2 linked regions of the Homo sapiens genome follow. The protein of the gene in region 1 interacts with the protein of each later gene in a pairwise test. Each region holds a gene or a part of one and is shown in the gene's direction. Other genes may lie near its edges.

Region 1 (7,284 bases):
ATTTTTTTTGTATGTTTAGTAGAGATGGAGTTTCGCCATGTTGGCCAGGCTAGTCTTGAACTCCTGACCTCAGGTTATCCACCCGCCTCGGCCTCCCAAAGTGCTGGGATTACAGGCTTGAGCCACCTTGTCCAGATGTTTTCTTTTTTTTTTTAGGTTTTTTTTTTTTGAGACAGAGTCTTGCTCTGTTGCCCAGTCTGGAGTGCAGTAGTGCAATCTTAGCTCACTGTAACCTCTGCCTCCTGGGCTCAAGCAATCCTCCCTTGTAGCTGGGAATACAGGCACGCATCACCATGCCCAGCTAATTTTTGTATTTTTTGTAGAGACGGGGTTTTGTCATGTTGCCCAGGCTAGTCTCAAACTCCGCGCTCAAGAGGTATCTGCCTACCTCTGCCTCCCAAAGTGCTGGTATTACAGGCATGAGTCACCACGGTGCCCGGCCCTGGTGAGAACTTCTCTGTCAGTTGGAGGAAACTGACTCTGCCCAACTTAATCAGAAACCCAATTTATGAAAAGCAACTGTGGAGCCCTCAGAGCCAACAAGGCGGCTGGAAAGAAAGGTTCCAAGTCGAAGCAGTATCGTCTCCAGCCCAAACCACAGTGCTACTTTGGCCTGGTGAGCATGCCACTGCTCCTGCCACGAGGGGGAAGCAGGGGCCTTTGTGACTCACACAGCCCTCCCCACAGGTGCAGACTCATGTTTCTGCCAGGACTGCTGCAGCCCTCCATCAAAGCTGGTGGCCAGTACCCCTGACTGACTCCAGGGAGGCTACATCTGATTGGTTGGGGCTGGGCAAAAGCTCTTGCCCTGGGGCAAAGGAATCTGAAAAAGATAATATCTAGCGTGTTCCTCCTCTGATGTGGAGGAAAGGGGACCAGGTGCTGAATGAAGAAGAATGGCAAGGATCCTTGAGCAAGCGTTCCACTGTAGAACTCACCGATCTGGTCCTGCAGTCAGTCCTGGGGCTGGGCTGATGGCCTCATTCTCACCTGGTTACTCTCACCCTGGGCTTTACAAGCATCAGTGGGTGTTGCTTTGCTCCACCAGCCTGATGCAGAGTTCTCACCTACAAACTGTAACCAAGGTCCCAGCAGAACACAGTCATTCTTAACAAACTGGGTATTTGAGGAGAGTTTGATAAAAGTGCTGTTGCACTTTGGGAGGCTGAGGCGGGCAGATTGCTTGAGCCCAGGAGTTCGAGACCAGCCTGGGAAACATGGCAAAAACCCTACTTCTACAAAAAATACAAAAATTAGCTGGGCGTGGTGGTGTGCATCTGTGGTCCCAGTTACTCCAAAGGTTGAGGTGGGAGGATCACCCCAGTTTCCTGGGGAAATTGGGGCCGCAGTGAGCCGTGACTGCACTCCAGCCTGGGTGACAGTGAGACCTTGTCTCAAAAAAAAAAAAAAAAATTGCTGTTTACAGAGCTGTAGGAAGGTTTGGGGAGCCACCTAGCTTTGGTACAGCATCTGGGCCAAGTCCTAGCCTTGGTACAGCATCTGGGCCAAGTTTGGTTTCTGCCTTGGAGGGGTCACTTTCCCCAGGCAACTTGTATTTCCAGGCTTTGCAAGCCTGAGCTGCAGAGACAAAACTCCTCAGACACCGAGTTAAAGAAGGAAGGGGTTTATTTGGCCGGGGGCATCGGCAAGACTCCTGTCTCAAGAGCAGAGTCCCCCGAGTGAGCAATTCCTGTCCCTTTTAAGAGGGTGCTCGTGAGAGGGTCGTGATCGATTGAGCAAGCAGGGGGTACGTGACTGGGGGCTGCATGCACCAGTAATTAGGTCAGAACAAAACAGGATAGGGATTTTCACAGTGCTTTTCTATACAATGTCTGTAATCTATAGATAACATAACTGATTAGGTCAGGGGTCGATCTTTAACTACCAGACCCAGGGTGTGGCGCCGGGCTGTCTGCTTGTGGATTTCATTTCTGCCTTTTAGTTTTTACTTTTTCTTTCTTTGGAGGCAGAAATGGGGCATAAGACAATATGAGGGGTGGTCTCCTCCCTTAGACCCACAGAAAATGCCTGCACACATGGGCACATGCCTGTGAGATGCATGGTTGCGATTTCCAAGCCACTGGGGTGATCCTAGCCTCCACTCACTCCTGCCCATGCACAGCCCTGGGTGGAGCCCAAAACACCCACCAAGCTCAACCATGAGCTGTGGGCAGATAAGAGGGTATGGGAGAGCCAAAGACCAAAAAAGTAGGGAGGAAGAGGCCAGGTGAGAGGCCCCTAAAGGATCTGGGGTTGGGGGCAGCAGAGTAGAGAAGCCAAAGGCAAGCATAGGAGGTGGGAAAGGACAATTCTTTTTTTTTTCATTTTTTTTTTTCGAGATGGAGTCTTGCTCTGTCACCCAGGTTGGAGTGCAATGGCGCGATCTTGGCTCACCACAACCTCTGCCTCCCGAGTTCAAGCGATTCTCCTGCCTCAGCCTCCTGAGTGGCTGGTATTACAGGCATGCACCACCACACCTGGCTAATTTTGTATTTTTAGTAGAGACGGGGCTCTACTGAACATGGAGATGTTGGTCCATGTCTATCCAACATGGAGATGTTGGTCAGGCTGGTCTCAAACTCCCAACCTCAGGTGATCTGCCTGCCTCTGCCTCCCAAAGTGCTGGGATTACAGGTGTGAGCCACTGCACCAGGCCTTGTTTTTCTATTTTTGAGACAGGGTCTTGCTCTGTTGCCCAGACTGGAGTGCAGTGGCACAATCATAACTGCAACCTTCATCTCCTGGGCTCAAATGATCCTCCCACCTCAGCCTCCCAAGTAGCTGAGACCACAGGTGCTTGCTACCATACCCAGCTAATTTTAAAATTTTCTGTAGATATGGGGTCTCCTTATGTTGCCCAGGCTTAGAACAACTCTTAGGAGCTTGGCTGGGGGGCAGGGACTGGAAAACCAAGGAACAAGAAACCAAGCTTGTGGATGGTGCAGAGTGGAATGAGCAACCTTTAGGGAGGCAGAGGGCTGGGCACCCAGGGTGTGGAACACAGGATGGCTCTAGAGCTGGACATGAGGAGCATACACTGGCCATTCTGCAGAAGGGGGACCTAGGCTGCACCCAGCTTTGGAGAGTGGCGCTCAGGAGGCAGAGGTGGGATAACCAGGCTGGGCTGTCAGGGAGGATGTGACTCCAGTCCCTCACTAAGACCCTCCCAGAGGGCATCCTGCCTGGGAACTGTCATATCCCTGCCCCCCACATGTGTATTGAGCACGGTGAGTCTTAAGCCCTTCTTGGCCAGGAGGTGATGGGGGCTTATTGGAGACCCAGGCCTTCCTCTCCCTGTTCTAACACCCTAGCCTGGGAAACTACTGGGAACATCCCAGATTGTCCCCTTGGGTTTCTCTTTGTCCACAGCGATGCCCCCACCTTTAGGTGAGAAATATATGGTGGCACACAGGGTGCACAACCCAGCCTGGGTGCCCCACTAGTGTGACATTTCACGTTTTCTGTCTTGAGTGAAATGTTCTGATTGTGCTAGGTGCAGAGTGGGGGTGGGTCAGGAACTCTGGGCATAAAAGGAAGAATGACTCAACATCCCTGATTCTGCCTGGACCCCTGCCCCGAAGTGAGGGGGCGGAGCCCTGTGTGGGAAGTTGGCCTGGCTGTGTGCCCTGGGAGCTGCCAGTTTCTAGCTCAGTCCTGGCCCACTGCGCCAGCGCTGAGCCTGCCAGGGCTGGGGCTGGGGATCACCTTGGGATGATGGTGTCAGTCCCAGGGGGCAGGAGATCGAGTGTCCTCTGAGCTGGCGACTGGGCCTGTAGAAGGGAACCGGCATTTGTGGAGTGTCTACTGAGTGCCAAGGTCTGCGCTGGGCACTGTCCTCGCACCGCCTCACCTAGTCCTCACGTAGCCCTCGGGCAAGTGAGGATCCGCCGGGACTGCGGCTGGGAGGGATGGCTGTGGCTGTCCCCCAGCCCACACAGTAGGCGCTCAGTGTCAGGGTGCATATTCCCGGGGACGCCCTCCAGGCCTGAGAGCTGGGGGCCGCCGCCGCCCCCCATGCATCCGGTGAGCAGAAGGAAACTCCGTGCGTCGCCCGGCGCCTGTCCGAGTCTGGGAACCGGTACCAAGTTTTCGCGCAGACCCCGGGCGCGAAGCTGGCCCCGAGGCTGGGAAGTCGTCCGCTTCCTTCCTTCCTCCTCCTTCCACCTTCCTCCCTCCTCCCTCCTCCCTCCTCCTCCCTCCTCCTCCTCCTGCTCCCCCGGACAGAGGTTCCGGGAACCAGCCGGGCCGGGGCGGGGCGGGGCGAGGGAGAGGGGCGGCCGCGCGGATCACTGAGGCTGTGGCGGCACTGCGCCCGGCGCTCGCGTCCGTCCGCCCGTCCGCCCGCCCAGCCATGACTGCGCCGGTCCCCGCGCCGCGGATCCTGTTGCCGTTGCTGTTGCTGCTGCTGCTAACGCCGCCTCCGGGTGGTGAGCCGGGGGTGGGGGCGGCCCGTCCTGCCCTGGGACCGGGCAGACACTTCCCCGCGCTGCCTCTCCAACGAGCCGGGCAGCACCAGCCCCACTATGCCCCCCACTGACCCCTGATTGCCCCGAGGCCGTCAGCGAACCCCCACGACTGCGGACCCCTCCTCCACCCCAGCACCCTCCTTGCCTGAACAACCCTGCCTAGACACCAGGCAGCTGCCACCTTTGTCTGTCCTGGAACGGTGGGGAGGGGTCTGCCCTCCCGCCCATGTTCCAGGGGATGGAGTCCCCAGAGGCTAGGGTAGGGTTCCCTGCCTGGCTTTAGTCTGGCGGGTGGCTGCAGGGCGAGCTGGCCCCTCCATCAGAGGCCTTCCCTCTTTGCCTCTGTTTAATGTCTGGGAGCCCCCACCGCTGCCTCCGTTGGCCCTTGTGTTCCTGTAGAGCCCGGCGCTGAGGCTGGCCTCTGGGGTGGAGACACCACTGTGTGTGTTGGTTGCAGATAGGTGATTCACAGAGTCTGGAAGGCTGGCTGGGGGCGGGTCCTTTAAAGGGTTAGGAATTGGAACAATCCCCTGCCCACCCATGGGAAGCCAAAGACCCTTTTGGGGTGGGTGGCTTCGTGGAGGGGAAGGCTGTATTTCCTGGGGGCTGGGATGAATCCAGAGGACCTGGGCTAGAGAAATGAGAAAGGGGAGACTTGTGCCCAGAATCCGCCCACTCCTGGAGTGAGCCTGTAGGAGGGTCGGTCACTGATTCAGTGAGGTCTGGGGGTCAGAGAGCATTTGTGCCATGGACTCAGCCTAAACAGCCTCACCGGTGTGTCTTCAGCCCTAGCTCAGAGGCTCAGATTGGGCTGTGAAGACCTTGCTGCATATGGGTTCACCTGAGCCACCAGGCACGGGCCATGCTGATGATACCAGCTTTCAGGTGGGCAGCTGGCCAAACTGGGCTTGTCAATGGTCCAATCCTCTGCTCCATGGCTTTGCCCAGAGCAGGGTTCTGCCTGGAGCTGCCAAGAAGTGCAGTTCCCCCCAACTCCCCACTAAAGTTCCCTCTTCCCAAGGAGGTCACTTGGTGTCTCTGTCTCTGGGCTTCACTCTACTGACAGCCTCGGGGTGTGTGGTGTCCTGATCAGGCCCGGGCACCAGATGCTGCACATGGCCAGGTGCCTGGCCTGGCTGGGTCTCCAGAGGCCACGTGCTATGGCAGACTGTTTCCAGGCCGATGTAGTTATGCCTCAGGGCTATCATCAGACCTGTCCCCTGCCTACTGCGGACTTGTGGGCCTTGCTGGACTAGGTATTCTCTTTGGAGTCTGCCCTGGCAGAATCCGGTACTGTTCCTTCCTGTTAGTGGGCACAGGTCTCTGCTAATGTAGCCTGAGGATACATGGGAACATTTGACTGTAGCATCTTCCTGGAGGTTTGTAAACCTTGTGGTCATCCAAAAACCTGGGTTATTTTCCACATTTGTTGTCAGCCAGATCCCCTCAGCATGACCTCGTTTATTGAGACTTGTAAGGATGTCAGTAGATCCCAACTCTGTGCTGAGAGTCTTGTGATGGCTCCAGGGCTACAGATGGTGCCACTGCCTTGGAGCCCTGTTGCCCAGGCTGGTCTCAAACTCCTGGAAGGCACAGACATTTCCTGGACACCTGCTGCAGGCCCAGCGCGGGGCTAAGTGCTTTATGAACGCTGGTATGGTGGGTGTGACAATTTCTGACCAGGATCTAGCCTGCCATCATGGTTATGGGGTGGTCTGTGAGAGCCAGGCCCCTGCAGTTGTGGTGCCCAGCAGGGGCTGAGGTTGCTGTGGTTGAGTGAGGGAGAGAGTGAACGAGGATTAAGAACTAGACAGTCTGGCTGGGGTGCGGTGGCTCATGCCTGTAATTTCAGCACTTTGGAGGCCAAGATGGGTGGATCACCTGAGGTCAGGAGTTCAAGACCAGCCTGGCCAACATGGCGAAACTCTGTCTGTACTAAAAAATACAAAAAATTAGCTGGGCCTGGTGGCAGGCACCTGTAATCCCAGCTACTCGGGAAGCTGAGGCAGGAAAATTGCTTGGATCTGGGAGGCAGAGATTGCAGTGAGCTGAGATCGCACCACTGCACTCCAGCCTGGGCAACAGAGTGAGACTCTGTCTCAAAAAAAAAAAAAAAAAAGAAAGAAAGGGACAGTCCAGTGTCTGGTCCCCTGCAGGTGTTGAGCTGTGTGACTTCTCGCCTGGGCAGCTTCTGGAGGAGGCCACCTGGAGTAGGGCCTTGAAGGATGAGTAGAGTTGAAAGGCAGGAGATAGGAACCAGGCAAGAATGTGAGCGGAGTGTGGACAGGTTGGAGAGCTGGAGTGATCTTCAGGACTCTGCAGTTTAGACCCTGCTTGGAAACTCGGGCCTTGATCCTGAAGCAGTGGGAATTAGGGGAGGTTTGAGAGCAGGGTGTGGCCCCATCAGACTCACATTGAGAAAGTTCACCCTCCTATCAGGAGGCCAGTGCACTGGTGAGGGAGAGAGGGAGCCCAGTTAGGGCAGCTCTGTTGTGGCCCGTGGGATAGGGCAAGGCTGAGGGGGAGCAGTGGCCAGGGGTCAGAAGGTGGCCTGTGGCTAGGGTGGCTCAGAGACGGTGCAGCATGTGTGTGTGTGTGTGGTCTGGTGGCTGTGCCAGGGAGGGCGCTGTGTCTGCTGGGGCCTGGCCCGTGGGCACAGGTGAACAGATGTGTTTCTCCTCTCCAGCACGTGGTGAGGTGTGTATGGCTTCCCGTGGACTCAGCCTCTTCCCCGAGTCCTGTCCAGATTTCTGCTGTGGTACCTGTGATGACCAATACTGCTGCTCTGACGTGCTGAAGAAATTTGTGTGGAGCGAGG
Region 2 (7,025 bases), on another chromosome or scaffold:
ACATGCTCTTTCACTGGTCACTCCATTCTTTTTCCTTTAAAGACTTGTATCATATATGCTTGTCTTTTAATTCTTCCAGTCTCTCTTGTATTCATTCTAGTCAGTCTCTCTTCCCCTCTCCCAACCATACTGGAACTGCTCTTACTGAGTTCCCTGATGACCTGTTAAAAATACAGTGGTCATGGCTGGGTGCAGGGCTCATGGCTGTAATCCCAGCACTTTGGGAGGCCAGGATGGGTGGATCATGAGGTCAAGAGATGGAGACCATCCTGGCCAACATGGTGAAACCCCGTCTCTACTAAAAATACAAAAATTACCTGGGGGTGGTGGCATGTGCCTGTGGTCTCAGCTACTCGGGAGGCTGAGGCTGACGCAGGGGAGTCGCTTGAACCCGGGAGGTGGAGGTTGCAGTGAGCCAAGATCACGCCATTGCACTCCAGCCTGGCGACAGAGCGAGACTCCGTCTCAAAAAAAAGAAAAAAAATACAGTGGTCTCTCTTTGGTTTTCATCTTACTTATGAGCAGCATTTGACACAGATGATGGATCCTCCTCCTGGAGGCACTTTGTTTGGTTTCCAGGACACTACCCCCTCCTGGCTCACCTTATGTTCCTTGGTACTTCTTTTTCAGTCCCCACAGCCTATTCCTTCTTATCTTTGTGATCTCTAATTATTGGAATGCTAGGAGTCTGTCTTAGCCATCTTTATCTTTTTAGTTGTTCAGGACAAAAACTTTGGAATCTTCCTTGATTCCTTTTATTTACCCTTCCTCCACCTCCCCAGTCAGTCCATCAGCAAATCCTGTCAGCTCTCCCTTAAAATGTACTTGGAATCTATTTTTCATCACCTCCACTGCATCCATCTTAGACCAAGCCATTACTTCTTGGCCTCGTGATTAAAGTAGTTTCCTAACCAGTCTCCTAGCGTTGTGCTTTTGTCCCTCCTTCTTCTCCCCTCCCCCTCCAGATTTTTACTACAGTAGCCAGAATTCTCTTTCTAACAGGTGAGTCAGAACATGCAGTCTTACACTTAAAACACTCCAATGGATCTCCCTTTCAACGCTTTTTGGTTTTAGCATCTTAAAATGTCATTTAGCATCTTAAAATGTCCAAAATCAAACTGCTGATTTTGCCCCGAAATCTTTTGTGTCCGTGGTCTTCCCCATCTTAGTAAATGTAACTCCAGGAGTGCAGAGCTATTTGTCTTTTTTTTTTTTTTTTTTAAATCTGTACCACTTACAGCAGTACCTGGCACTTGGTAGGCACTCAGTATTTACTGAATAAATGAGAAGAAATGAGTCTTTCAAAGAGCAGGGTAAGAGAATAGTGTTCTAGGTAATATGAACCATAAGTGCAAAAGAACCTGACGGGGCCCAAGTTTGGCATGTTTAAGGAACTGAAAAGAAGGCCAGCCTGGGCATGGTGGCTCATGCCTCTAATCGTAGCACTTTGGGAGGCTAAGGCAGGAGAATTGCTTGAGCCCGGGAGTTTGAGACTAGCCTGGGCAACATAGCGAGACCCTATTTCTGCAAGAAATTAAAATATTAGATATGGTGGCTTGCAGTACTCAGGAGGCTGAGATGTAGGACCTGCAGTAGTGACCCCTGATTGCTCCACTGCACTCCAGCCTGGGCGAGAGCCAGACCCTGTGTCAAAAAAAAAAAATGGCCAGTCTGGGCAGGAGCTTAGGTACTGTATAAATTTCCTGTTGCTACTGCGGCAGTGAAGTCATATGTACTGTTGTAAAGTTCTGGTGGTCAGAAGTCCAGAATGAGGCTCAAGGGGTTAAACATCAAGGTGTGGGTAGGGGTTCTGGAGAATCAGTTTCCTTGCCTGATGCAGCTTCTAAACACCTGGGATCCCTTCCCCATCTTAATGCCATGAGCACAGCCTCTTCAAATCTCTGTCTCTCATCTCTACTTTGCTTGTTTCATCACCTTCTCTCACTGACCCTCCTTTGTTTCCCTTGTAAGGACCATTGTGATCACGTCATCTGACCAGCCTGGGTAATCCAGGATGATCTCTTGACCTCAAGATCCTTAACTTAATCTCATCTGTGAAATTCTTTTTGCCAAGTAAATTTACATATTCACAGGTTCCAGAGATTAGAACCTAAACATTTTTGGGAGGGGTGAGGAGGTATTCAGCCTACCACAGTTAATGAAGAGTGAGTGGCCTGAGATAAGGTCTTAGAGATTGGCAGGGACCAGATCATGATAGGTCATGATAGGGAGTCTGTTTTTCAGTCATAGTGCTGAGAGGTTTCAGTAGGGGAATGATAGGATTTGATGTGAAAAAGTCTCCCTGGCCGCTGGATGGCGATTAGACTGTTGGGATCGAGAGCAGAAGGCCTCAGCTTTTTATTCATAACATCATACGGTGGATCTCAATCTTGCTGTACGTTATGATCACACCTCAAAGCAATTATATCTGAACCACTGAGGGCTGGACCCAAGTATCAGCCTTTTTTTGTTTGTTTGTTTGTTTTTTAAGAAAAAGCATTCTAATTGTAGCCAGGGTTGAGAACCACTAGTCTCATAGATCTGAATCCATTTTACCTTTTCAGCCTTAGCTCAGTAGGAGCTTCTCGCATCCATCACTTACTGCATGAGCTACTTGACCATTTCTTAGACAAACTTCCTGTATTCCCACCTGTGCCTTTCAAAATATACCTAGTCTAGGGAGGCCTACGCGGACTGTCAGGGCCCAGCTGACAAACTCTCCTCCAGAAAGCTTCTCCAGTGCCCTGTAGTAGGAATGATTTGCTTCCTTCCCTGGCTCCCATTTGCACTTAGATTTCTCAGCCCTGATCACAGTCAGCTGTATATTATCGTCTCCTTTGCTTATTTACTCATGCCTTCAACAAATACTGTACCACTTGGCTGAATGCTCTGCTAGACACTAGGATTTACTACAATGCAAAGACAGTCTTGGTTGGGCGTGGTGGCTCACACCTATAATCCCAGCACTATGGGAGGGTGAGGTGGGCGGATCCCTTGAGGTCAGGAGTTTGAAACCAGCCTGGCCAACGTGGTGAGACTCTGTCTCTACTAAAAATACAAAAATTAGCCAGGCTAATTAGCCGAGACACACTCCTGTAATCCCAGTTACTCAGGAGGCTGAGGCACTAGAATCTAGCTTGAACCCAGGAGGTGGAGGTTGCAGTAAGCTGAGACCATACCACTGTACTCCAGCCTGGGCGACAGAGCAAGACTCTGTCTCAAAAAAAAAAAAAAAAACCTTGTCTTCTAGGTCCTCCAGCAGCTTAATCTATATGGAGGTAGGAGCGGGTAGATGTGCAATAAGAATACTCTGAGATGATTGTTCAAATGGAGATTCGTCCAAGTGCTGTGGGAACATGGGGATTTCAGAGACAGGTTTTCAGCTATTTCAGTATTTGAGCTAAAAAACTTGAAGGATGATTTGGTATTTGGTGGTGAGCAGGGCATGAGGAAGGGAAGAGTTTTCTGAGACAACATGTGAAAGGCAGGAGATGGGAGAGAGATTGTAGTGTTCTTAGAGACCATGTAGTAACAGTATTGCTTCAGTGCTCAACAGTGCTCAATGAAGACAGTGTCAGAAGCAAGTAGGGGGCATTAGATTCTGTGATCTTCTATGCTTTATGTGAAGGAGTTAAATTTTATCCTATACTTGTAGGGATGCCATTGAAAAATTTGAGCAGTAGAGTGACATGGTGTGATTTCCATATTGGGAGGATTGCTCTGGGTAATGTAAAGGAGAGGCTGGAATAGAGAGGGATAAAGGCAGGGAGGCTGGTGAGTGCCACTAGGAGAGGAACAGGATCAGGTTTGTTGTAGTTGAGGGGAATTGCAGTGAATTGAGGCGTGAACCACTCTTAGAAGCCTAAGGTTATGGGGCCGGGCATGGTGGCTCACGCCTGTAATCCCAGCAATGGGAGGCCGAGGCGGCTGGATCACAAGGTCATGAAATCTCCTGGTTAACACGGTGAAACCTGTCTCTACAAAAAAAAATACAAAAAATTAGCCAGGCATGGTGGCACGCGCCTGTAGTCCCAGCTACTTGGGAAGGTGAGGCAGGAGAATCACTTGAACCCAGGAGGCAGAGGTTGCAGTGAGTTGAGGCCACGCCACTGCACTCCAGCCTGAGCGACAGAGCAAGACTCCATCTCAAAAAAAAAAAAAAAAAAAGCCTAAGGTTGTAAAAGGAAGCAATGCTTTGGGAAGGTAGAGGATTGAAGGGGAGATTCAGGATCAGGGTTCTTAAAAAAATCTTTTTTTGCCTAATAAGTGGCCTTGAAGAAGTTTATATGCATATGCTGATTAGAAAGATTCAATAGAGGCCGGGCGTGGTGGCTCATGCCTGTAATCCCAGCACTTTGGGAGGCTGAGGCGGACAGATCACCTGAGGTCAGGAGTTCAAGACCAGCCTGGCCAACATGGTGAAACCCCGTCTCAACTAAAAATACGAAAATTAGCTGGGTGTGGTGGCACACGCCTGTAATCCCAACAACTTGGAAGGCTGAAGCAGGAGAATCGTTTGAACCCGGGAGGCGGAGGTTGCAGTGAGCCAAGATCGTGCCATTGCAGTCCAGCCTGGGTGATGAGCAAAACTCCATTTCAACAACAACAAAAAAGAAAGATCCAATAGATAGACTTGAAGATAGAAGAAAGTGTAAATACAGGGGAAAATGATGAAACAAATCCCCGAGGAGGCATGAAAAGAAGTTATTCTGAGCACAAATAATTGGTTTAGCCTTGGATAAGAAGAGGAGGAGTTGTGAGAAGGGGTCATGGAACTAAGGATGCAGTCAGATGATTTTGTGAAGGAGCCAGAAACCTTGAGATTATCCCCAGTAGCCTCGGCTTGCTCTGTGACTTGGGAGAGAACAGGTGAGGAGGACAGGTGTTAAGTTGTAGTAGCCTCATCTGCACCCTAGAGTTTTCTCAGATGGTGCAGCCTAGGGGCAGGGATGGAGGAGCTGAGACTTCGATTATTCTCTGGGTTTTTTGCCAGATGATTTGAGGAGGCGGGTGGAGGATCTGCATGTGTCCTTTTCCTAGGTTTTGAATTCCTGATGCTGTAACCACATTATTTTATCTTCTATTTTGATGAGTATGCAGCTTTGCATTGCAGTGGCTGTGTAAACACTGAATTTTGTTTTGCTTCTTGACCATTTATTTTTCCTACCAGGATAGTAATGATGACACTGAAGATGTTTCACTGTTTGATGCGGAAGAGGAGACGACTAATAGACCAAGAAAAGCCAAAATCAGGTAGGAGGAGAGAAGTTGCATGAGCTGTGTTAGTGTCCAGTGCTGTTCTGTATGTATGTCAGTGCTAGCTGATGGGAGTCAAGGCAGAGTTGTTTCAATGTGCTTGTGAATACTGCATGTTGCTAATTTGACGTTTAGTGTACGACAAAGATGACATTTCAGATTTTCTTGTGAATAATTGGCATACTTAATACTGAGTTTTAAAATCAGCAAATCCAATTATTTGAACACCTGTGTTTTTAATTCTGTGCTATTTTCCAAGAATGTACCATTTCTTTATATAGTTTCTATAGATACATTACATTTTGATTTATTGTGCACATTTCAAAATCACATAACATTTCTATTCTAAATTTAATTCTCTCTAAAGAAATTCACTTACTGAAAGCAAATTCTACTTGAACCCTGCTAAAATGCTGTCTTTTACTTTTCTTTCATCTTTCATGCCAGTCACAAAAGACCACATATTGTATGATTTCATTTATATGAAATGTCCAGAATAGGCAAATCTGTAGAGACAGAAGATAGATTAGCTGTTGCTAGAAGCTGAGGGGTTTGAAGGTAAATGGGGAATGACTGCCAGTGGGTACAAAGATTCTGTCTGGGGTAATGAAAAGTTGTAAAATTGGAGTGATGGTTGTACAAATCTGTGAATGTACTAAAAACCATTAGATTGTTTACCTTAAATAAGTAAATTGTATGATATGTGAATTATATCTCAAAAAAGCTATTAAAAAACAAGAAACAGGCTGGGCACGATGGCTCATGCCTGTAATCCCAGCACTTTGGGAGGCCGAGGCAGGTGGATCACGAGGTCAGGAGATTGAGATCATCCTGGCTAACATGGTGAAACCCCATCTCTACTAAAAATACAAAAAATTAGCCGGGCGTGGTGGCAGGCGCCTGTAGTCCCAGCTACTTGGGAGGCTGAGGCAGGACAATGGCGTGAACCCAGGAGGTGAAGTTTGCAGTGAGCCGAGATTGTGCCACCAAACTCCAGCCTGGGCGACGGAGCGAGACTCCGTCTCAAAAAAAAAAAAAAAAGAAAAGAAAGAAAGAAACAAACTACCTGATAACTTTGTCTTAATGTCTGAGTGATTTCTGAGGGCTAAGGAATTCTTTTGGTGTGATTTGAAAATAGGATTCAAATTCTAAGATACAGTTTCCTTATTTCTCCAAGAGAGATAAAATTCTTTATTATCTATTTTGTGAAAGTTTATATTCAATGAGGTGTTAAAGTCATCTGTGCATAGTGTATTTTCTGTAACTACAGGGCCTAGTCAAATAGTGGGGCTTAAGAAAAAGAGAGCTAGGAGGTTTGCTTCATCCTACTAAAGTCACCTCTTTTATTTTGACAAAACTCTTCACAGTTACACGATGGCTAAAACATTTTTCTCTACATTTGCTAGTACCTGTAGTAAAATGTAATTGCATTTCTTTCATTGTGTTTTGGTTTTCAGACATCCAGTAGCATCGTTTTTCCACTTATTCTTTCGAGTCAGTGCAATCATCGTCTATCTTCTCTGTGGGTTGCTCAGCAGCAGCTTTATTACCTGTATGGTGACAATTATCTTGTTGTTGTCGTGTGACTTTTGGGCAGTGAAGGTAATTTTGATTGTTTTTATTTTAAAATTATATTTAATATGAAAATGATGTATAAAAATATGAGTTAGCATTTTGCATTATTGTTAATCTTTTGTTACTTCAAACCTCATCTGTGTTGAAGTGCTAGATATATCAAATTGCATGTAGTTTTTTTTTTTTTTTTTTTT

What was found. The genes of interacting proteins can lie anywhere in the genome.
Region 2: the proteins of SHISA5 (region 1) and TVP23B interact in binary tests that used the Homo sapiens proteins (3 or more experiments, as listed by UniProt).

What each region holds. Positions count from the first base shown.
Region 1 is NC_000003.12:48,501,162-48,508,445, reverse strand, and holds the start of SHISA5 (protein shisa-5 isoform a precursor), read left to right. Parts: upstream 1-4,271; 5' UTR 4,272-4,351; coding exon 4,352-4,427; exon of another isoform or gene 4,428-4,725; intron 4,726-5,252; exon of another isoform or gene 5,253-5,351; intron 5,352-7,152; coding exon 7,153-7,284. UniProt on the Homo sapiens protein: Can induce apoptosis in a caspase-dependent manner and plays a role in p53/TP53-dependent apoptosis.
Region 2 is NC_000017.11:18,784,183-18,791,207, forward strand, and holds part of TVP23B (Golgi apparatus membrane protein TVP23 homolog B), read left to right. Parts: intron 1-4,852; exon of another isoform or gene 4,853-4,869; intron 4,870-5,170; coding exon 5,171-5,253; intron 5,254-6,713; coding exon 6,714-6,858; intron 6,859-7,025.